Linked DNA regions of Homo sapiens: region 2 is linked to region 1. The links come from fine-mapping of genetic effects on gene expression. A gene starts in region 1. The other region holds a variant in brackets. All regions are shown on one strand. Distances are from middle to middle.

Region 1 (8,202 bases):
TTTTTTGGGGGGGTGGGGGGGACAGAGTCTCACTCTGTCACCCAGGCTGGAGTGTAATGGCGAGATCTCAGCTCACTGCAACCTCCACCTCCTGGGTTCAAGCGATTCTCCTGCCTTAGCCTCCCGAGTAGCTGAGATTACAGGTGCAAGCCACCACACCTGGCTAATTTTTGTATTTTTCGTAGAGATGGGGTTTCACCATGTTGGCCAGGCTGGTCTCGAACTCCTGACCTTGTTATCTGCCCACCTCGGCCTCCCAAAATGCTGGGATTACAGGTGTGAGCCACCATGCCCAGCCTCTCCGTCCCTTTATCATACCTGGACAGGCAGATGGGCTCCTTGGTACTGCAGATTCACCACAGCTACAGACACTGCAGTGATGGCACTCAGGGCACGAGCCAGAGGGGCAGCCTCAGCAGGGAGCAGCTCACTGAGCACTAGAGATCAGGCAGAGGCCTGACTCAGAAGGCATTCCCATTACAGTTGTCAGTCCTCTTTGGGATTAGACTCCCATAGAGATGACCAGTTCAGGGGCATGGTGTGGTCCTGCTGACCCAGGAAGGTATAGCTTTTGCTTCTCACTGGTAGGGGTTGGGGAAGGGGAAGGTGGCTATTCCATTACCTGAAGCTGGAATGGCACTAATAACGTGGTCAGCCTCCAGACTGCTGTCCCTTAGAGATACCTGAGAGCATGAAAACATTTGAGAGACCCAGAAAATGAGAATTTGATGAGTGAAAAGAGACTTCTGGTGCCTCACTCTCAGTTTCCCAGGCACCCATGTGGCCGGGGAGACTGTGTACTGACCCAGGATGAAGAGATTGGGTGACTATGTAGACTTCACAAAAAATCATTCCTCTGTGTACTCCAGGAAGTGGACCAGACAGGCCAGTGTGGCTGTTCTGAAATGTTCAGTGAAGCTGGGTTCTTTCCCCTATCTCTAAGCCACTTATAAGTACTACTTCTATCCACAGACTTGCATAGGCTCTTTGAGGAAGGTTCACAAATAGGGCCTAGGATTCTGGGGTAGCCCATGTCTAAGTAGCTTCTAAGGCACAAAAACAATGAGGAACTCCAGTCCTATCGGCCCTGGCCTAGTTAAGCCACTTGGATAAAGATGGAAACACTGACAGGTTCATTACACTCCAGGGGTTCCCCTACCTTCCAGCGCCCTTCTGCCTGGAGGCTGAGCCCACAGACCGGCTGGCCTCTGAGAACACTGACCCCCCTACTAGTCAGGTGGGTTTCAAGGGCCTGAGGCAACATCTCTAGACCTCCACGAAGTGACCACTGGCTCCAGCGCTCAGCCAAGGCCTGGCGAATGAGTGCTGAGTCTGGCTGTGGGGTCCGCCCTGCAGAGGAAGCAAAGAAGAATCATTGAGGCTGGATGCAGTGGCTCACACCTGTAATCCCAGCACTTTAGGAGGCCGAGGCGGGTGGATCACTTGAGGTCAGGAGTTTGAGACCAGCCTGGCCAACATAGTGAAACTGCATCTCTACAAAAAAATACAAAGATTAGCTGGGAGTGGTGGCACATGTTTGTAATCCCAGCTACTTAAGAGGCTGAGGCAGGAGAATTGCTTGAATCTGGGAGGCGGAGGTTGCAGCGAGCCGATCTGAGATTGCACCACTGCACTCCAGCCTAGGCAGCAGAGCAAGACTCCGTCTCAAAAAAGAAAAAAAGAATCATTGAATAGCACCCCTTGTCCCCACTCCCTCACTTTGGCAGTACTTAATATTTTCACCCTCTGAATCAATCCCCCCTCACCTGCCCCCAGCAGCAGGCCCAGTAATATGGAACGATGGGTTTGCTCAGCTTGGAAGAGACTGGGAAAGCAGGACCTGATGCTGAGCTCACGGCTGTTGCCTGCAAACACTCCACGGCAGAGACTGTCCATGGCTAGAGACGCCACCTTAAGGGTGAGACTAGGACTAAGGAGCGAAAAAATAATCTACACTGACTGATTTCCACAGCCCCTATTTGGTAGGGAATGAGGGTGGGATAGGGTTTGGGTTGGGGGACATTCCCACTGTGACGGATGGAAATGAAGGCCTTCACTCCCAATAATGAGTTTTGGGAATTATGAGGGGGTGGGGTATGAAGAGAAGAGGGCATCCCCAAATGATACAGAAGAGCCCCTAGGTGGTAGATTTGAACAGGGAGCTCTGCAGCTGGTTTAGGAGGGAAGAGGTTTGGGGCCTCTGGGCAAGTGTCACCTCAGGTCCAAGGCGGCGCTGGGCAAAACTGTGCACAGTCTCATCAGGCTCTTTGCCCCGGGGCTTGGTCAGCTCCCTCAGCCCAGCCCAAAACAGAGGTTTGGAGAAGGGGGGTGAAGGGCGGAGTAGCCCCCTGCATGGAGAAAGGCATAGTGAGGGGGAAGCTCCTGACATACCTCCCCAGCTCCAGGCGCTGGGGTCATTTCCACTCATTTGGCTTCCTTTTGCTGGGAAGGCTGACAGGGAGATGAAGAAATGGAAGGCAGGTCGGGCGTGGTGGCTCACGCCTGTAATCCCAGCACTTTGGCAGGCCGAGGCGGGCGGATCACAAGGTCAGGAGTTCAAGACCAGCCTGGCCAATATGGTGAAACCCCATCTCTACTAAAAATACAAAAACTAGCCAGACGTGGTGGTAGGCACCTGTAGTCCCAGCTACTCGGGAGGCTGAGGCAGGAGAATCGCTTGAACCCGAAAGGCGGAAGTTGCAGTGAGCCAAGATCGCGCCATTGCACTCCATCCTGGGCGAGAGCGATACTCCGTCTCAAAAAAAAAAAAAAAAAAAAAAAAAAAGAAAAGAAGAAAGAAATGGAAGGCATATGAGGATGAGGGCACAGTAAAAGGAGCGGAGGTGCTGGTGTTACCTGAGGCCAGTGGGTAGGGCATGCAGGGCACCGCCCACGTAGAGGAACCTGTTCTGGGCAGCTGGGTGGTCTCCCCGGACAGGCAGCACTTCTGAATCCAAGCCAAGCTCAGAAACCTGCTCTCCACATGCCCTCAGAAGAGGAGAAACTAAGGGAAGATCTGACCCACCAAACATACTTCCTCCCCTAAACTCTATTCCCCAATGGAAGCCCCCTCCACAACCTCTCCTAGACATCCCACAAGCCTCTCACCAGGAGCAAGGTCCGGGCCCCTAGGGCTCCCGCTGGCCTAATTCCCCGAGGTCCAAGCTCAAAGATAGCACCATTAGGGCCTCGAACGGAGCGAATCCAGCCTCCCAGACGCTCACTGCTCTCCACTAGGACCACCTGGCGACAAGAGGGAGAGACACTGCAGCACCGCCTGTAGCCGCCGGCGAGAGGTCAGGAGGGGAGGGGAAGAGGCATATTCAGAGGGCCAGGATCCATCTAGCTTTTGATGGAAATGGGAAGAGCATTAAATGAAGCTCCCTCTGGCACAAGTGGAGCACTCACCTTAGGGGGGCAGGGGGCCCGGCTCAGGTGGTAACTGGCGGCCAAGCCGCTGATGCCTCCGCCCAGCACGACCACGGTCCGGCCCATGCGGAAACCTGGGGGAAAGGGGGCGATATGGACAGGCAGACCGGGGACAACCTGCGCTCCAGAAGCCCCGCCGGTTTTGAGTTCTATCCCGGCCACTCACTGCTTTAGGGGAAACTAAGTGTGCACGGATGGGCTGGTGGAACAGCGAGGTCCCCGTCCAGGGGCCAGGACTCACCCACAATAGGTAGGGATGAGAGAAAATGAGGGAGAAGGAGATCGAGGTCCTAAGACCGTACCCCGCCGGCGCTCTGCTGGGTGCAGATAAGGGCCACACCCTCGCTATCGGCCCTCGCAGGGCTCGGGCGGCGGGCAGTACGCCTGAGTTCTGAGGTGCTCTGCTTGCCACACCTCTGTAGGCCAACAAGTGCTTCAAATCCGCTACTCCCACCCCCAGCCTTTTCGGTCTCTCCTACGCTCCGTCCACTCTGTTCTCGCGGCACGCGCCTAACCCTACCTCTCCTACATCTGGATTGGCGGGACTTGGAAGGCCCCGGATCACGTTCACCAATAAAACATTGAACTGGCAGAGGCGGAGCGACGGCAGCTGTAAGAGCTGGAGGTTAACCGTGTTAGCGCCGAGCTGGGAGTGAGCGGCCGTACCCGTCACTGCCCTCCTCAGGACCGAGGCGGCGAGCGCTTAATGCTGGAGTTAGCGTTCCCCAGCACAAGCTTACCAGGTCCAGCTAGGGTGACAACCCTAGAGGGAAGGCCGCAGGAGCTTTGGTCGTAGGGAGAATAGATAGGGACACTTAAGGCCAGTCCACGGGGAGGCGGCTCCATAAACAGCTCCTTGATGTTAGCAACAGACCGGGCCTACGGGAGCTAGGGCCGCCCGGCAACGTACCCAGTGTTTGTCAACAGTGGCACTCCCCCATCGCCGACCAAACCAGTCGCCCCAGAGCCTGCACGCAGCCTCACTCAAGTATGCCTTTCCTCTTTTCCTCCCAGTACATAACCTTCACTGCTGGGGGACACAGGTCCGGGTCCAGCACCATCCCCGAAACCTTCCCCCTCGGCTCTGAGAGCGCCCCCACCTGTTAGAGAGGGAACTTGGGTCCCAAGAAGACTCCAATTTGGCTCAGTTCTCTATCACCCCCTAAGCAAAAATACAAATAAGCACATCATTTTTTCTTAATAAATTTATTCACAAAAAGTGATATTGCAGAGGGTCTGGGGGCTGTACATGGGCAGGGGCTTGGTGAGCTTTGTACATGGGGCTGGGAGACAAGGGAGCCTCCAGGTGGAAGGGTATTTTTTAATAAAAAAAATAATGGAGCTACAACCACCCCCTCCCCCCTCCCCGATTAAAAAGACACAAAAATAGACGTCTCTGAGGTAAACGGGGAGCCTGGGGCTTAAGGGTGTTTAAAGGGCTTCACAGGTGCCAGAGCTTAGAGGTGTCACAGGCACCGGGGTGGCTCCTGCATCAGTTGGTAGAACAGCACGTAGCCCTCGCTGGATGCCACCTGGTTTTCACTGACAGGGGAGACACTAGGAAAAAAGGAGATCGGGAAAGGGTTGTGGTCATTCCTGTTTACTCCCTTCTCCCTACAAGACCGAACCTCAGAGCATCCAGGAAATGATCAGGCAAGACCTCCACCTCTCCTTTCACCTGGCACTCTGCTCTCCTGGAGCTTCATAGAAGGGGAGGGTGTCAGGGCTGAGTGGGAATGGGGCAGGATGTAAATAGGAGGCTATTCTCACCGAGAGTCATTGTAGACATGCCAACCAGTCTGGCACCGGCACAGGGCTGTGTAGTGGCCATAGTGGACGCTGCCTGAGTGGTTGCAAAGGGCATACAGCTGGTATACAGGACTTCCTGCGGGGTTGGAGATGATCAAGTTCTATAATCAGAGCTGTGCCCCCACTCCTTTGGCTCCTTAGGACTTTCCCCACCAGACTCACCGGCTTTGTCACTGGCAAAGTCCCCTAGGCTCAGTCGCTGCAGTGGAAAGTCTACACCTACTGAACTTTTTTTGATGGAGCCTCGGGAGGCAGAAAATCGATTCAGATCTAAGCCCTGGTTAAGGAGCATTTGGGAGGCAGTGGGCCTCTGAGGGGAACTTCTTCTATCCTGAAAGCTGTCCTCTCCCCACTCCCGACACACTGGGAGCATCTTGTGGAAAAGTGGGTGGCAGACTTTTCCTAAGGAAAATTCAATTCTCTGGAAACATGGAGGAAAGAGAATGTATGGGAGGTATCCTAAGAGAAGTAAGAATCTGAAGATTAGGATATGGAGCACGAGGATTCGAGGGAATCTTTGTACTGTCAACTTTTTGGTACTTCGAGTTTTCTGCCGACATCGGTCACACACCTGAATAAATGGCAAACAGTGTTAGGTTAATATGCTCCTAACCTCAATTGGCTTTTCTGACACCCCGATCCACATACAAATTTAGTATGCTCTTCATTACAGCTGGATCCTCTTGGCTTCTCCCCTTTGCTCTAGGAGTACTAGAACAGATCTGAGACTCCAACACAAACCCAGATACATAAATATTATTCCCCATATGAAGACATCATGCAATCCCTTTTATCCACATGGAGTCCCCCCAGGTCTCCCACCCTTACTGTATCCCTTGTGAACCTCCACATACTGGGGCATTCTCCGACTCTAGCTCTTCTTCCTTAGTGAAAAGGTTGAAACAATCCCGCAGAGACACCTTGCCCCCAGCAAATCCTTTCTGGGGGAAAAGGGGAAGAAAGGTCAACATGTTCTGAATTTCCTTTTCCAACTCTTCTCAATCAATCCAGGCTTCAGTTCTGCTCCAGAAACCCACAGGGTTCCCGCCCACACTCTGGGGGTGGGTAGGCTTGGGTCACAGAGCCCCTGTCCTGTCCACCCCGGAATCCTCTGGAATCCCACCTTGGGGATGGGCAGGGACAGGTCACAAAAAACCTCGAAGGTCGTGGAGCGATACCCACAGGCCTGGCACTTGAGACAACTTTTCAACTGGCCCACAAACAGGTCTAGACAGAAGCACAGGGACAGGAGAAAAGGTCATTGTTGGATGTTATGAGATGATTTCTTGGATTTCCATCTCTTCCTGCCCCTTTGCTTGACCCTTCCTTTCCCACTACCAACACTCCTAATCAACTCTTCACACAGCTTCACATTTGCATCATCCAGTCTTGTTCCCATACCCCTTGATAGTATCGATTTTTCCCCCCAAGCCTGTACCCCCCTCACACACTAATTTTCCCTCATTGCTTTGCCCCATTCCATACCCACAATCTTGCTGTCCTCTCGCTCCAGGTAACGTTTCCACATTAGGTTGGCTCGGTCATCATCACTACCACAGATCAAAGGAAGTGGGGAGCACCCATGAGACAGCAGGAACACTGGGCACCCCCAACACCCACTGAAACAACCTACAGAGCCCTACTCCCCATCCACACCCCTGCTCCTTCCCTAAATTTCAAGGAAAAGTCAAAAGAATAATGCCTCAATGAACTTTCTAGGGAAATCCGAGGTGAGAGGAAAAGAAAGGAATGTACATAAGGGAAGAATATGCTGTCTTCCTCTACCTGTAAATGAATTATCCCCTTCTTCAATTTGGTGACATCCCTAGCATGATCTTCTGCCTCCATCTGCTCCCTTAGACTCCCCCTCTTCCTTCCTTCCTTCTACTTCTATGTTGCTTCTCATACTATTTTCTATACTAAAGGGTTTCCCTGGACCCTACATCTTCAATCTTTACTAGTTTAGTTCTATGAAGTGTGAATGATGCTGATAAACTACGGGGAAAGGAGGTAGAGGGAACGACCCTTACCTTAACTCAGGTTCTTCTAGCAGAGCCCCTCCTCGGCGGGGTGGAGAGGGAACTGGACCATTGGCAAGTATCGGTGGAGCCCGGCGGCCTCGGCGGTTGATTTCAAGGTGTAGCCGCTCCATGAGGAGCTTCAGGAACTCTTGGGCATCCTGCTGGCTACAGCCAGACAAAGAGTATGGGCAACTGACTCCTCTCCTAGTCCACAGACACTATTCCCTGCCCAGATATTGGTCCCCACTTCCTGGATGAAGAACATCTCAAGGCTCAGAACAATGCTGCCAGGGCCCTTGCTTGGCCCTACCCCCAGACATGGCCAGAGAGAAATCCCATAGCCTCCAGCTCTCCCACCTGTATCCAGAGAAGGAGGGAACATATTTCTGGAAGACAGCTCGGAATCGAGTAGGATTCACAGCTTCGCAGGAGTCAGGGTGCCAGAGGGCACCAATCACATCTGCAAAGGCTGTTGGGATGGGAGTGGGGAAGGCAAACAAAGGTTAATGTCTGGAAGAGGCAAGCAAAAGGTGGCTCAGAGGGTAGAAAATAACCTTTAGGAAAGTAGGCACTGGGAAAAGTAGATACAACTGCCAGATTTAAGGGTTGGGGGCCACCACCAGTGGCAGATGGACCTGCAAGTGGTTGGGGAAAAAGGGACTTGAACAGAGGGAGCAGGAGTTGTTGCCCCACCTTCAGTGAGCTCTTGGGCTCGGCCTCCTCCAGGCACCTCTTGCCGGAAGTCCCTTCTCAGACAGAAGTCCCGAAGAGGTCGAGTGCTGCTCAGACACTGCAGCACAGCATTCAGGAAGCACTGGGGAGCAGTAGGGACACTGCTGTTATCTCTCCAGACCACTGCCCAGGAAGCCTTAGAAGAGCTTCAGAGCTCTCCTTCCACATGCCTTCCCCAAGCTCGTGGGTTTTCCCCACCCCCAGCACCATT
Region 2 (16,060 bases), 170 kb before region 1:
CAACATTTGAAGAAAATGCTGTAGTTATACTTAACTTCTACTCTATAGAAAACAGCTACTATATTCTATCATGGAACTAGGAGAGAGGAAAAACAGGACATATGCTGATGAATGCAAGGCCACCATTCAAAGGGGTAAAGACAGAAAAAAAACAACTTTTTTCTTTTTTTTTTCTTTTTTTTGAGATAGGGTCTTGCTGTCATCAGGCTGGAGTGCAGTGGCACAGTGACAGCTCACTGCAGCCTTGAATTCCTGGGCAATCCTCCCTACATCAGCCTCCCTAGTAGCTGAGACTATAGATGCATGCCACCATTCCAGGCTAATTTTTTATTTTATTTTATTTTTTGAGACGGAGTCTCGCTCTGTCTCCCAGGCTGGAGTGCAGTGGCGCAATCTCAGCTCACTGCAAGCTCCGCCTCCCAGGTTCACGCCATTCTCCTGCCTCAGCCTCCCAAGCAGCTGGGACTACAGGTGCCCGCCACCATGCCCGGCTATTTTTTTTTGTATTTTTTTAGTAGAGACGGGGTTTCACCGTGTTAGCCAGGATGGTCTCGATCTGACCTCGTGATCTGCCCACCTCAGCCTCCCAAAGTGCTGGGTCTTGATATGTTGCCCAGGATGGTCTCGAATTCCTGGGCTCAAGCAATCCTCCTGCCTCGGCCTCCCAAAGTGCTGGGATTACAGGTGTGAATCACTGCACCCTGCCCAAATAATTCTTCAGTTGTGAAAAATATTCAATTTTAGCCATGAATACAAATGAATATTTTTTTATCATTATAGTCTATAAAAAAGTCAGTATCTTTTTTTCATTTAGTGGTGACAAATATACTGAGATAATAAGGGAAACTACAGCCTAATAAATAAACTGCTCTTGTTCTTTCAGTGATTTTTAGGATTAAATCTGTTCATCAATATCACCAAACTGAGTAGAAAGCATCCATCTAGAAATTCCTTAATCAATCTAAAAATTTCTTATTCTAAGGAAGCAGAAATAAAAGTAATTATGAATCTACAGTTAGAATAGCCTAATCTTGAGATTTACCCTATCATCCCCACCAGTTCAGTGCAAGCAGGTTAAAAACCAGGAACTACATATGGATTCCTAACAACACAAATCATCCTTATACCTTGATTCCATCGTCCCTTTACCAACCAAAGGAATGAAAAAGAACAAAAATGACGGCATCAGATCTTAGATAGGAGTCTCTATCCTTATCAACAAAACTACATATATATGTCTATAAATGGACATATATAAATATATACACACACACATATATGAGATTGCAAATAGCAGAGGCTTAGATTCAGATAATTCCTGCCAATGTCTCATCAGCAGTTCCTTAAATACAGGATCCCTACACTAGAGCCACTGGCCCTACTGATGACCACGTCAGTTAAAAACATAGTCTACAGAAGCCTAGGAGAGATCCTTCAGGGTCTCAGAAGACAGAAACAAGAGCACTTTTCCAATACCACCACTGCTTCAACAAAGCAAAAGTCAATAGAAACTCCCTTTCCTACCTCGAAAGCTCTATTTGGCATCAAATTTCTGGAGCAAGAGCACACTTACACGATAGGACCTGAAGGTTGCCATCTGCTCTACTCTGTACAAATGGGCCATCTCCTGGCAAGACTGTAATGATGCCTGATGTGATGAATAAAACTTAGGCATTGCTCCCAGGCTAAAGTAACAAAAGAGACGCGATGGAGGGGCTCAGACAGAGCTTTACATAAGGTAAAACAGTGGGGCTTCTGTCTCTCAGGTATATAATTTCATACCGATTCTAGGCAAGATATTTCCTCTTATTCCCTAGGATGAGGTTAAAGATATACCAAGGGGCCAGGCACAGTGGCTCACGCCTGTAACCCCAGCACTTTGGGAGGCCGAGGCGGGCAGATTACCTGAGGTCAGGAGTTCAGAAACCCCATCTTTACCAAAAATACAAAAATTAGCAGGGAATGGTGGTGGGCGCCTGTAATCCCAGCTACTTGAGAGGTTGAGGCAGAAGAATAGCTTGAACCCAGGAGGCTGGTCTCATGAGGTTGCAGTGAGCCAAGGCTGTGCCATTGCACTCCAGCCTGGGCAACAAGAGCGAAACTCTGTCTCAAAAAAAAAAAAAAAAGACATACCAGGGAACTATCCACAGGAGAGAAAAGTTTGTACACACAGCAGGGATTTACACACTGTTCTAAGTCATAAGCTCATTTTCCTTTGCCAGCAAAGGTCCCAGGACTATCAACTTGGAACAGAAGTCTTGTTGAGTATGTGCTAATAGTGCATTGGAGCATTTCTTTTAGAAAGCACTCCACTACTCCTAGTTTGCACCTGTTCTCCCTGTGGATATATATGGGCTAGATCACCTTCGCTGGGAGAGAACACAAGTTCCCCCAATGTCTCAAGGAGACTAATAGAGAGCAAACTCAGATTTACCTATGCAGCACTCTCATGTACAATAACCTCTTCTGGCTCCCACTGAACTGAATAGCTTTCAGCTAAACTAGTAATCACATCACACAGAAATGCCAGTTGAAATACAATACTAGTTAGGTAGTTATTATAGTCAATATGCAGGGGACCAAAATAAGATACTTCTAGAGCCAAAAAATATGATTATAAATGGAATAGAAATTTGGGACAGAAATATATAAAACACATTAACAAAAAAGAGAGTGGTATTCATTTTGTATTCACCAAATATTTACTAAATTATCTACTGCATTCTAGGTACCCTACTAGATAATTAAAAATACAGACAGATGCAGTCTAAGCCCTCAGGGAACAGACAATCCAGTAAGGAAGAACAACAATGAACAAGTAAATTACAACTATGATTATGAAAGAAAAACTAGAATGCTTTAAGAGCATGTATCCAGGGAACATAATCTAGTTTTTGTTTCTGTTTTTGGTGGGGGTAGGAGAGCAAAGTATGCTATAAGGCTAAATAAAGGAAAGCTAAAAAAGTAAAAATATGTTACATGCACATTCTTGTGAGAAAATAAATACATAAAAAAGCAAAAATGTCTATGTCTCCAGCACCAGCCAGACATAATTTTTAAATCTAGCTGACCCTCTTGTAAAGTATATCCCTACTGTGAAAAGATACATCAGATCCCAGAAAACTGATTATAATCTGCACTCCATATAATAAACCTTCCTACCTAAAAAGGATGTACTAATTATCTAAGACCAGTATATAATTCACTCTGTAGCTGCAGTTCATATTATATAAATGAATAAATAGACATTCTGGTCTGTAAATCAAGATTTTGTGAGACTGGTTAGTGAGCTAGTCTTTGGGGGACTGAGCATGTCTAGGTGATAAGAATGGGTGCTAAAACTGAGCTTCTGGAAAAATAAGGTTGGACTGTGTTTCATCAATGATCAGTCAGCCAGCCCATCTCTATTACATTTCTCTGCTCTCTATAATTTCAATAAACATGATATCAGGAAGTGCTAGGGAATGGTTTAAAAATTTGCTAAGAAACTAATCTGGGCCAGGCACAGTGGCTCATGTCTGTAATCCCAGCACTTTGGAAGGCTGAGGCAGGCGGATCATGAGGTCAGATCAAGACCATCCTGGCTAACATGGTGAAACCCCGTCTCTACTAAAAATACAAAAATTTAGCCAGGCGTGGTGGCACATGCCTGTAATCCCAGCTACTCAGGAGGCTGAGGCAGGAGAATCGCTGGAACCCAGCAGGCGGAGGTTGCAGTGAGCCGAGATCGCGCCACTGCACTCCAGCCTGGGCAAAAGAGCAAGACTCTGTCTCAAAAAGAAAAAAAAGAAGAAAAGAATCTGAGCACAGTGCAAACTCATAATTAATTGTTAAAGGGATGAATGAACAATAAACTTAAGAGACTTACTGTTCCCTCTAAATCAAGTGCTGAGTTTCAAAGGAGGCGGAGACTAGGGCCAATGAAACAGCCAAGTTTTTCAAAGAAGCACATATGTGTGTGTAAAAACACATATACATACCTGCACTCAAAGCAATACCAGTGCCACGGTGGCAGATGGACATCGCCATGGGAAGAGACCAACTGTAAAGAAACACACAAAGACAATTTTAAAAAGGAAAAGATGACACCATAGTAGAGAGTCTATCTTGGCAAAAATATAAACTAATTCTGAAATAGGCACTTTTTTTTCTTTTTTTTTTTTTGAGACAGAGTCTCGCTCTGTTGCCCAGGCTGGCAATGGCATGATCTCAGCTCACTGCAACCTCCACTTCCCGGGTCCAAGCAATTCTCCTGAATAGGTAATATTTTCTTAAAACAAAACAAAACAAAACAAAAAATCACCAGCTTTTGCATTCCTGTCTTTTCACTTTTTTTTTTACCCCCCCGGAACAGGGTCTTGCTCTGTCACCCAGGCTGGAGTCCCATGCCACAGTCTCAGCTCACTCCAACCTCTGCCTCCCGGGTTCATGAGATTCTCCTGCCTCAGCCTCCTGAGTAGCTGGGATTACAGGTGCCTGCCACCAGGTCCGCCTAATTTTTGTATTTTTAGTAAAGGGGTTTCATCACCTTAGCCAGGCTGGTCTTGATCTGATCTCATGATCCGCCCACCTCGGCCTCCCAAAGTACTGGAATTACAGGTGTGAGCCACTGTGCCCAGCCGTGTTTCCACTTTTTACTTTAAAAATACAAACCTGGGCCAGGCGCGGTGCCTCACGCCTGTAATCCCAGCACTTTGGGAGGCCAAGGCAGGTGGATCACCTGAGGTCAGGAGTTCGCAATCAGCCTGACCAACATGGAGAAACCCCGTCTCTACTGAAAATACAAAATTAGCCGGATGTGGTGGCACATGCCTGTAATCTCAGTTACTCGGGAGGCTGAGGCAGGAAAATTGCTTGAACCCAGGAGGTGGAGGTTGCGGTGAGCCAAGATCGCACCATTGCACTCCAGCTCCAGTCTGGGCAACAAGAGTGAAACTCTGTCTCCAAAAAAAAAAAAAAAAAAAAAAAAAAAACACCTGTATCAGGATTAGGTTACAAAAATAAATTAAAGAATAAAGAAAACTGATTTATGGAGAAGGATCCCTACCTTTACCAGACTGCATCACTGATAGGGCTGAGAAAAAAAAAAATGATTATAACTCAAAACTCCTTTCGCAAGGAGAAACATGGGTCAAAGACACTCATTAAAGTTGGAGCTGGCATGGTGGCTCACACCTGTAATCCTAGTACTTTGGGAGGCCAAGGCGGGGGCCGTTGAGTTCAGGAGTTCAAGGTCAACCTAGGCAACGTAATGAGACCCCATCTTTACGAAAAAAAAAAAAAAAATTAGCTGGGTGTGGTGGCAGAGGCCTGTGGTCCCAGCTACTTGGGAGACTGAAGTGAGAGGGTCGCTTGAGGCCAGGAACTCCAGACTGCAGTGAGCTATGACTGTGCCACTGTACTCCAGCCCGGGTTGGGGAGAGAGAGACAGAGACCATGCCTCTAAATAAATAAATACAGTTGATACAATTAGAAAGTAATCACTATAGGCCGGGCACGGTGGCTCACGCCTGTAATCCCAGCACTTTAAGAGGCTGAGGCGGGTGGATCATGAGGTCAGGTGTTCGAGACCAGGCTGGCCAACACGGTGAAACCCCATCTCTACTAAAAATACAAAAATTTAGCCAGGCGTGGTGGTGCATGCCTGTAATCCCAGCTACTTGGGAGGCTGAGGCAGGAGAATGACTTGAATCCGGGGGGCGGAGTTTGGCGTAAATGGAGATCACGCCACTGCACTCCAGTCTGGGCGACAGAGGGTGACTCCATCTCAAAAAAAAGAAAAAGAAAGAAAGCAATCACTGTAATACAACCTGGGTCCCTCTATTTCTCCAGGTATAACACTGATGGAAGAAAACCTGAGTTTCATTTATCCACAGTTTCATATAATACATGGTCATCCTTGAATCCTCCCTTATTATATGCCCCAAAATATCCAAACTGAACATACCACTTATTTCCTAATAAGTTACCTATCCCAAATTTTTATATCCAATCTTCTGGATTTAGTATATATTTCTTAATCCACAGTAGTTCTGAAATACTTTTCATCATCAAACCCCTTTTTAAATTATGAATCATCAACTTTCCATTGAAGGACAACCAACATTGTTATTCTAGACCTAGTTCTCATGCTCAAGAGAGAACTGGTGGGTAAAATGGAAAGAACAAGAGTCTCTGAAGAAAGCTAACGCTCATCTTGGAATGTTAGCTTAGACAAAGAATACTAAGCATAATCAAACCGTATCTTCAACACTTTGAAGAGAAATAAAGAGGTTAAAAAGATCTCAAAAGAAAATTCTGCCTACATAATGAAAATGGTCATAGTAAGTAAGAAAGGAGTATTCCCAAATAAATTAAAAATATTAATACTAACTAGATACCACTCTGATCAACTCAGATTTAACAAGAGAAATATAAAAGGTGGAAGAAGAGCCACATACCACTCTGATCAACTCAGATTTAACAACAGAAATATAAAAGGTGGAAGAACAGACACATAACCAAGGACAGAGAACGATAGCATAATTTGGTAAGAAGAATCAGGAGACCGAAACCCAGAAGGAGCTGAGGCTTGCAACAATTTCAAGGACAACAAAAAAGAGGTTTTAAAATTGTATTCTGACACAGTCAGCCTCCTAACTGGGATGAACAATTTTATGCTAATTGATGACAAGAGTGTGAAACAGATTGCACAATTATTTTTCTTGTCAAAGAGAATAATTATCAGCATGAAAAAGACAGAACAAATATTGATCTGAAAGACTTGAAACCCTAAAGAGGTGAGGAAATTGGAAGATTCCAAACACACTTGGGGCTCTGGGACCAGATGAATCAAATCCCATGACTGAAAGAGCTAATAGAAGAAACATATGCACTGTTCCAGAAATCTTTCAGAAATACTGATATACAAAATGGGAGTGATGTAATATGAAACTGCTGAATTCAAATGTTACCCTATTTTTCAAAAACGGTTAAAATCATAGCCTGGCTAGCCCAGTAATGACAAGGTAAAAATATTGTTTTCTAAAAATAACCATAATATTATTTCCAGTCCCCCAGGATCTTCCAGAATCTTGTCATTTCTCATCAAGCAAGTATTTAGCCTCTACCCTTGAACCTGGGCAGGACTTGATGACCGACGGCCTCAAAAGGTAGAATGCGGCAGAAGTAATGCTGCATGACTTACGAATTCTCCTTCCTTCCTCATGCTGTGTGGAAACCCAAAGCAGCCTACAAAGACATGTGAAAGGACCTATGTGGTGAGAAAATAAGGGCCCCATCCAAGAGCCAGAATCAACTCCAAGACATGTGAGTGACTGGATCTTCAGATTAATTCAGGCCCTAGCCTTTGTGTTTTCCAGCTGAGGCCTCGGGCACCATGGAGCAAAGACAAGTCTTCTTCACTAGGCCCTGTTTGAACATTAGGTAAGAGTCTAGTATAGAAAATCAAGATGTGGGCAGGCACAGTGGCTCAGGCCTGTAATCCTAGCACTTTAGGGGGCTGAGGTGGGCAGACTGCCTGAGCTCAGGAGTTTGAGACCAGCCTGGGCAAGATGGCAAAAAAAAAAAAAAAACCCATTTCTACAAAAAATACAAACATTAGCCGGACATGGTGGCGTGTGTCTATAGTCTCAGCTACTTGGGGGACTGAGGAAGGAGGATTGCCTGAGCCCGGGAGGTCGAGGTTGCAGCAAGCCGTGATCACGCCACTGCACTCCAGCCTGAGTAACAGAGGGAGACTCTGCCTCAAAAGCAAAAAAAACAATAAAAAAATACCTCCAGAAAGTAAAAACATTTCTCCAACAGCCCAGACTGCCAATGGCCAATAAGTACATGAAAAGATGTTTAACATCACTAACCATTTACTTCCAGGCCTCTTTCAAAAAACCCAAAAAATGGGTAATAGAAAATATGACTTCAGGTATCTCAGATATCTTTCCCTGACATGCCACTCTGGATATAGCCCCGTGTTCCCTGCTGCTTTTTTCCCCCCAAGTATGTCTGGAGTTACATAACCAGAAAAGCAAATAAGGTAGTGAAAGACTCACCTCACCAACCTACAACCATTCTTTATATGACCTGTGAAAAAAGGCCACGGCTTTAAATATACAGATTCAGAATAATTTAGGATGCTCTTTTCTCTTTTTCATTATAATTCTTCCCCAAAACTTTTTTTTTTTTTGAAACGGAGCCTTGCTCTGTTGCCAGGCTACAGTGCAGTGGCGCAATCTTGGCTCACTGCAACCTCCGCCTCCCGGGTTCAAGCGATTCTCCTGCCTCAGACTCCTGAGTAGCTGGGACTACAAGCACGTGCCACCACGGCCAGCTAATTTTTGTATTTTTAGTAGAGACAGGGTTTCACCTGAGATCAGGATGATCTCGATCTCTTGACCTCATGATCCACCCACCTTGGCATCTCAAAGTGCTGGGATTACAGGCATGAGCCACCGCACCGGGCCTCCTAAAACTTTTATCTCTTAAAAAAGAAAGTTTCACGATTGAGAAGCAAGAAATAAGATCACTTATTAGCCTCCTTCTGTTTTAGTGGCATGTCCAGTTTCTACAAACAGGATTATTCCTGGAATCTGGCTTGGAAAAAAACTGAAGGGTTATGGTATTTGTGGAGGTGGTTAAAAAATGGCCAGCCTCACTGGCAGAAACCCAAGAGAGTAGCAGAGCTCAAGATGCTTTGCTGGGTTAGCCTAAAAAAACAAAAAGCAGATTTACAGGGACTTATCTTCAAAGACATCAGCAAAAACTGTTATCAATGCCACTTCTGAAGATGAGATAAACAGAGATGTATGTATATATGTATATATGTATGTATGATGTATGTATATACTTATATACACACACGTATGTATGTGACAGAGATTGCATACATATATATGCTACCTCTATCCACAGACCGGGCCTAGAAGCAATGACATCCTAGTAGCAATGAGCACATCTAGCACCCAGATACTGATTTCACAGGAGTCATTTTGAAGAACTCCTATTGGCCAGGTCTGAGACAATTTGAACACCAAAATAAATAATAACAAAGTATAATCCTTTGGGGAAATTAATGCTTGATCCATATTATCCTTGAGTCCATACTGATAAAAAAAGCAAGCTTTACCCTATCAAAACAAACAAATCTAGAAAATATTATTATAATATATAAAATTAGCAACATTACATTTGGCAACTATCACAGTAATAAATGATTTAGGCAAGTACCTCCAACAGATACTGGTGAGTAAATATCTGATGAGAAAGAATATTTAGAGTTTCAAAGTATCTCCCGCCAAAATATGTATTAATTAATACAACATCCTTATTCAGTAACTTTACAGTAGAGAAATCTAGCAGACACATCTTAAACAGTGACAAAAGTTAACATCACCAGTAATGGGATAAATCATTAGCACATGCCTCCTGATACAATGTACTGACAGAAGTATAGCATTACCGCAGGGGTATTCCTGCCAAAAATGCATAAATCATAAAACACCAAACAAACCCAAATTAAGGAACATTCTAAAAACGTCAAGGTCATAACAAATAAGGAAAGACTAAAAATCTCTCCCATACTGCAGGAAAAAGAGACATGACAACTAAATGTAATATATAATTCTAGGTTCAATCTTAGGCCTATAAAGGACATTAATGGGACAAGTGGCAAAATTTGAATGGGACCTACGGTTTAGATAGTAACATTGTGATGGTTGTACTTTGGAGACTGTCTTGCAATTGAGGAAATGCACAGCCAAGTATTAAGAAGTTGTAGTAGGCAGAATAATAGTCTCCTTAAAGATGTTCATGTTCTAATCTCTAGAACCTATGAATATGTTACCTTTTACGGCAAAGGGGAATTAAGGTTGCAGATGAAATTAAGGTTGCTAATAAGACAACCTTAAGATAAAGAGGGAGTGAGCCGTAATCCCAGAACTTTGGGAGGCCGAAGTGGGAGGACAGCTTGAGCCCAGGAGCTCAAAGCCAGCTTGAGCAACATGGCCAAACTCCATTTCTAGAAAATATTTAAAAATTAGTCAGCCATGGTGGTACATGCCTATAGTCCCAGGTACTTGGGAGGCTGACCTGGGAGGATCACTTAAGCCTGGGAAGTCAAGGCTGCAGTAAGCCATGATCATGCCCCACAAGTTTTATTAAAAACTTGTAGAAAACTTGTGCCATTTCAGCCTGGGCAACACAGCGAGACCCTGTCTCAAAAACAAAACAACATAGACTATCCTAGATTATTAGGACGGGCCCAGTGTAATCATAAAGGTCCTTAACAGCAGAAGAGAGAAATGAGAAAAAAGAAAAGCAGAAGAGGCTCACAGAAGAAAGGAGTCAAAGAAGAAATGAGATGACGGAAGCAGGGTCAGCATGATGTGACTGAAGAACTCAATGTAGCATTGCTGGTTCTGAAGATGGAGGAAGGAGGGCAGAAGCCAAGGAATTCAGATAGCCTCTAGAAGCTAGGAAAGGCAAGGACATGGATTCTTCCCTAGGGCCTCCAGAAGGAAACAGAGCCCTGCCAACACCTTGATTTTAGCCCAGGGAGATCTTGTCAAACTTCTGACCCACAGAACTATAAGGTAATAAATTTGTGTTGTTTTAAGTCACAACGTTTGCAGTAATTTGTTATGGCAGCAAATAGAAAATTAGTATAGATTGTGGTAACTAGAAGAGGAGTGCAGCTGTAACGAATACCCAAAAATGTGGAAGTGCCTTTGAAATTGGGCAGTGGGAAGGGACTAAAAGAATTTTTAGGACCATGATTTTTAAAAAGCCCAGATTGCCTTGAACAGATTTTAGTAGAAATATGGATGTTGTGCTGGTGAGGATGTGGAGAAACTAGAACCCTTATACACTGCTAGTGTGAATGTAAAATGGTACAGTCACTTTGGAAAACAGTCTGGTAGTTCCTCAAAATGTTAAACATAGGCCGGATGCCGTGGCTCATGCCTGTAATCCCAGCACTTTGGGACGCTGAGGCAGGTGGATCATGAGGTCAAGAGATCAAGACCATCCTGACCGACATGGTGAAACCCCGTCTCTATTAAAAATAGAAAAATTAGTTGGGCGCGGTGGCGCATGCCTGTAGTCCCAGCTACTTGGGGGCTGAGGCAGGAATATCGCTTGAACCTGGGAGGTGAAGGTTGCAATGAGCTGAGACTGCGCCACTGCACTCCAGCCTGGCAACAGAGCGAGACTCCGTCTTTAAAAAAAAAAAAAAAAAAAAAGTTAAACATAGAGTTACCATATGATGCAATAATTCTACTCCTAGGTATATACCCAAGAGAAATGAAACATATGTGCACACAAAAACTTGTACACAAATAAATGGTCATAGCAGCATTATTTCTAATAGCCAAAAAGTGGAAACAGCTCAAACGTCCATCAATTTATAAATGGGTAAATAAAACACTGTATGTACATACAATGAAATATTATTCGGCCATAAAAAGGAAGGAAGCACTGATATATGCTAAAACATGGATGAACGCTGAAAACATTATGGTAAGTAAAAGAAGCCAGTCACAAAGGACCACATATTTTATCACTACATTTAAATGAAATGTTCGGAATAGGTAAGTTTATAAGATGGAAAGTAAATAACTGATTGTCTAGAGCTGGGAGGGACAAACGATTGGTGGTGATGGCTAAGAAATGTAGTGTTTCTTTCTGGAGTGATGAAAACATTCTAAAATTGGCTGGGCATGGTGGCTCATGCCTATAATCCCAGCACTTTGGGAGGCCAAGGCAGGCAGATCACCTGAGGTCAGGAGTTCAAGACCAGCCTGGCCAACACAGTGAAACCCCTGTCTCTACTAAAAACACAAAAATTAGTCAGGCATGGTGATGCACATCTGTAATCCCAGCTACTTGGGAGGCTGAGGCAGGAGATCACTTGAACACAGAAGGCAGAGGTTGCAGTAAACCGAGATCATGCCACTGTACTCCAGCCTGGGCAACAGAGCGAGACTCCATCTCAAAAAAAAAAAAAAGAAA[GAAAA/A]AGAAAATATTCTAAAATTGTGGTGATGGCTGAACAACTCTGCATTTAACAAAAGCCACTAAACTGTATGCTTTCAATGTGTGAACCGTATGGTATACAAATTGTATTTCAAAAAGGAAAATATGAATGTTAATTCAGCTAGTAAAGGCTCAGGAGGAAATTAGGAACATGTTATTAAAAACTTGTGGAAAGGGGATCCTTGTTACATAGGGCAGAAAGTTTAGCAGAATTATGTCCCACGATAATGTGGAAAGCAGAATCTACTGAAGTGGCAACCTGATTTCTTTTTGCTCTTTATAGTAAAATGTGAAAGGAAAGAAACAGACTGAGGGAAGAGCTGTTAAATAAAAAGCAAGCTGAGCACGGTGGCTTACAGCTGTAACCCCAACACTTTGGGAGAAAAAGGTGAGAGGATCGCTTGAGCTCAGGGGTTCAAGACCAGCCTGGGTAATATATTGAGACCGTCTTTACAAAAAATTAAAAACTAGCCAGGTGTGGTGGCATGCACCTGTAGTCCCAGCTACTCAGGAGGCTGAGTCAGGAAGATCACTTGAGTCCAGGAGTTCAAGGTTACAACGAGCTATGATCACACCACTACTACACTCCAGCCTGGGTGGCACAGTGAAACCCTGTCTCTTAAATAAAACAAACAAACAAACAAAAAAACAGGACTTAATGATTTGGGAAATTCTCAGCCTTCCCAGCAAAAATACTAAAATTAAGATATTCACTGTTGCCAGGCGCGGTGGCTCATGCCTGTAATCCCAGCACTTTGGGAGGCCAGGGCGGGCAGATCACGAGGTCAGGAGCTCAAGACCAGTCTAGCCAACATAGCGAAACCCCGTCTCTACGAAAAATACAAAAAATTAGCCAGGTATGGTGGTGTGCGCCTGTAATCCCAGCTACTTGGGAGGCTGAGGCAGGAGAACCGCGTGAACCAGGGAGGCGGGGGTTACAGTGAGCCGGGACTGCGCCACTGCATTGCAGCCCTGGCAATAGTGTGAGACTCTGTCTCAGAAAAAAAAAAAAAAAAAGATATTTACTGTCAAGGCCTGGTACAGTGGTTCACACATAATCCCAGCACTTTGGGAGGCCAAGGCAGGCAGATCACTTGAGCCCAGGAGCTTGAGACCAGCCTGGGCAACATGGTTTTATAGAGATGGTGATACACCATGTCTATAAAAAAATACAAAAATTAGCTGGGCGTGGTGACATGCACTGTAGTCCCAGCTACTCAGGAGGCTGAGGTGGAAGGATTGCTTAAGCCTGGGAGGCGGAGGTTGCAATGAGCCCAGATCGTGCCACTGCACTCCAGCCTGGGTGACTGGGTGAGACTCTGTCTGGACAAAAAAAAAAGGATATTCATTGGCAAAAAGAAAAAGTCAGGGCGTGGCCATGTAACCTTATGTTAATACCTGAGAAAGATTGAAAGGGCAGAATATTTAGTCACATAAAAGGCGTTTTGAAATTAAGCATGTTACTAGTAGATCCCCTCAACCATCTCATCAGAAGGCAGAAACAGAGGCAGGATTATTTAGGAAAATTCTATAAGGGAACGTCTTGTCTAATGGAGCAAATTCCCATGACACAAGCAGGAGACCCACAAGGTTCTCTTTTTTTTTTTTTTTTTTTGGAAACAGAGCCCAGGCTGGAGTGCAGTGGCGCCACAATCTCGCAATCTCGGCTCACTGCAACCTCCACCACCCAGGTTCAAGAGATTCTTGTGCCTCAGCCTCCCAAGTAGCTGGGACTACAGGCGCACCACCACACCTGGCTAATTTTTTGTATCTTCGTAGAGACAGGGTTTCACCATGTTGCCCAATCTGGTCTCAAACCCCTGAGCTCAGGAAATTCACCTGCTTTGGTCTCCCAAAGTGCTAGGATTACAGATGTGAGCCATCGCGCCTGGTCCCAACAATGTTCTTAAGAATGTTATACCAACAGAAATACTGCCAGCATAGACTAAAAGTGACAGAGAGAAGATGAAAAGAAGACTGTCATACCCCGAAATTTCTACAGACAAAAAAGAGGCTGTTAAAAATGACTCAGCTGCAAAAGCATGTGTCACCTTTCACAAAGAAGGATAGCGGATGGAGCTATAAGCCCAGAGGGCAAAGCCAATAGCTGCAAAGGATTATTCTCAGGCCTTGAAATCAAATGGTGTTTGCCTGGCTGAATTTCAAACCTGGTTAGAACCAGAGACTCCTTTTTTCCTTCCATTTTCTCACTTTTTGAGCAGGAATGTCTACAGTTGTTATCCTATGTCTGTCCCACCACTGTATTTTGGGAGTATGTAACTTGTTGCTTTAGATTCACAGATGAAGAGAAAATGTTCCTCAAAAGGATTATACCCAGAGCCTCACCCATATCTGGTTCAGATGGGGAGATTTAGATGAAATTTTAAGACTTTGAGATGAGGCTACAGTAGGTTGAAACTTTTGGGGCCACCGCGATGTGGTGAATGTATTTTGTCATGGGACAGACATAAACTTTGAGGGCTAGAGGGTAGACTGTGGTAGGTAAAATAATGCACCCTCCCCTCCAGAGGTGTCAATGTATTAATCCCCAGAACCTGTGAATATATTATCTTATATCACAAAAAGAACTTTGCAGATATTATTAAATTAAAGACCTTGAGATGGAGGCATTGTCCTGAAATATTTGGGGAGGTCTAAATATAATGACAAGGGTCCCTTGAAAGGAGAAAAGGGAGGTAGAAGAAGTCAGAGTGATACAAAGCGAGAAGGACTCTGCTATTGCTTGCTTTGAAAATAGAAAAAGAATGCCATAACCCAAGGAATGTGGATGGCCTATAAAAGTTGGAAAAGGCAAGGAGCCTCTGGAAAAGAATGCAGCCCCTGCAAACAACTTAATTTTAGCCTAATGAGACCTGTGTTGTACTTCTAACCTAAAGAATGGTAAGACAATACATCTGTGTTATTTTAAGCCACTAAGTTTGTGATACTTGTTATAGTAGCAATAGAAAACAAATACAGGGACTGGGCGTGATGGCTCATGCCTATAATCCCAGCACTTTGGGAGGCCGAGGTGGGTGGATCACTTATGGCCAGGAGTTTGAGACCAGCCTGGACAACATGGCAAAACCTCATCTCTTACTAAAAGACAAAAATTAGCCGGGCATGGAGGTTCATGTCTGTAATCCCAGCTACTCAGGAGGCTGAGGCACAAGAATCACTTGAACTCAGGAGGTAGGGGTTGCGGTGGGCCTAGATCGCACCACTGCACTCCAGCCTGGGTGACCAAGCAAGACTCTGCCTCAGAAAAATAAAAAAAGAAGAAGAAAACAAATACAGGAATAATACTTGGATATCATCATCATTGCAACTTCTTCTTGTATCATTCAGACATGTTAAGCAGCTGGGAATCTGCTTATTAGCATGTCTGAATAATTTAAGAAGTTGTGGCCGGGCATGGTGGCTCACACTTGTAATCCCAGCACTTTGGGAGGCCGAGGCGGGCGGATCACTAGGTCAAGAGATCAAGACCATCCTGGCCAACCTGGTGAAATCCCATCTCTACTAAAAATACAAAAATTAGCTGGCCGTAGTGGTGCACACCTGTAGCCCCAGCTACTCGGGAGGCTGAGGCAGGAGAATCGCTTGAACCCGGGAGGCAGAGGATGCAGTGAGCTGAGATCGCGCCACTACACTCCAGCCTGGCAACAGAGCAAGACTCTGTCTCAGAAAAAAAAGAAGAAGAATTTGCAAAGTTGCAACTTCTATATAACTTAGCATATATACTATATACCTTCCATATAAAGGTATATGGGAACTCTGTATGTTATTTCTGCAACGTTTATGTAAATTTGAAATTGTTTCAAAAATGTTTTAATTAATGGGAATTATATTTTGACTTACCAGAATTTTCTAAATGGTAGTTTTGCAAAATAGATTACCCTTGTAATGACAAGATAGAATTTAGTCATCTCCACATAAAAAAGGTGTAAGATAATCCTTATGTCATCTCCCTCTACCCTGAAGGGTTCACCTCATCTACATAGCAGTATTTTGGTTGAGTAAAAGTGAGGGAAGT

Direction of the effects. Alleles are on the strand shown, and positions count from the first base shown. SD is a standard deviation of normalised expression in the study named.
With allele A in place of GAAAA in region 2, the expression in skin of the gene that starts at base 3,917 in region 1 is higher (large effect, 1.0 SD a copy in TwinsUK).

What was found. PIP is the estimated chance that this variant, and not a neighbour inherited with it, causes the effect.
Region 2: its variant is fine-mapped to the expression of PPOX in skin (TwinsUK, PIP 0.95).

Annotation. Positions count from the first base shown.
Region 1 is chr1:161,162,141-161,170,342 of GRCh38, reverse strand. PPOX (protoporphyrinogen oxidase) reads right to left here and starts at 3,917. Exons shown (of 13, transcript NM_001122764.3): 1 at 3,671-3,917; 2 at 3,409-3,503; 3 at 3,109-3,243; 4 at 2,857-2,972; 5 at 2,216-2,348; 6 at 1,767-1,911; 7 at 1,160-1,350; 8 at 623-683; 9 at 319-437. The coding sequence starts at 3,495. USP21 (ubiquitin specific peptidase 21) reads right to left here. Exons shown (of 14, transcript NM_001014443.3): 5 at 7,953-8,073; 6 at 7,617-7,728; 7 at 7,269-7,424; 8 at 6,724-6,788; 9 at 6,362-6,465; 10 at 6,093-6,179; 11 at 5,731-5,809; 12 at 5,401-5,508; 13 at 5,200-5,314; 14 at 4,620-4,986. The coding sequence ends at 4,896. RefSeq lists an enhancer at 2,199-2,862.
Region 2 is chr1:161,328,576-161,344,635 of GRCh38, reverse strand. It overlaps SDHC (succinate dehydrogenase complex subunit C), which reads right to left. Exons shown (of 6, transcript NM_003001.5): 4 at 3,981-4,042. Among named protein-coding and RNA genes, the nearest start is that of SDHC, 22 kb to the right of the region's middle. The variant GAAAA/A (reference allele first, on the strand shown) is at 12,004.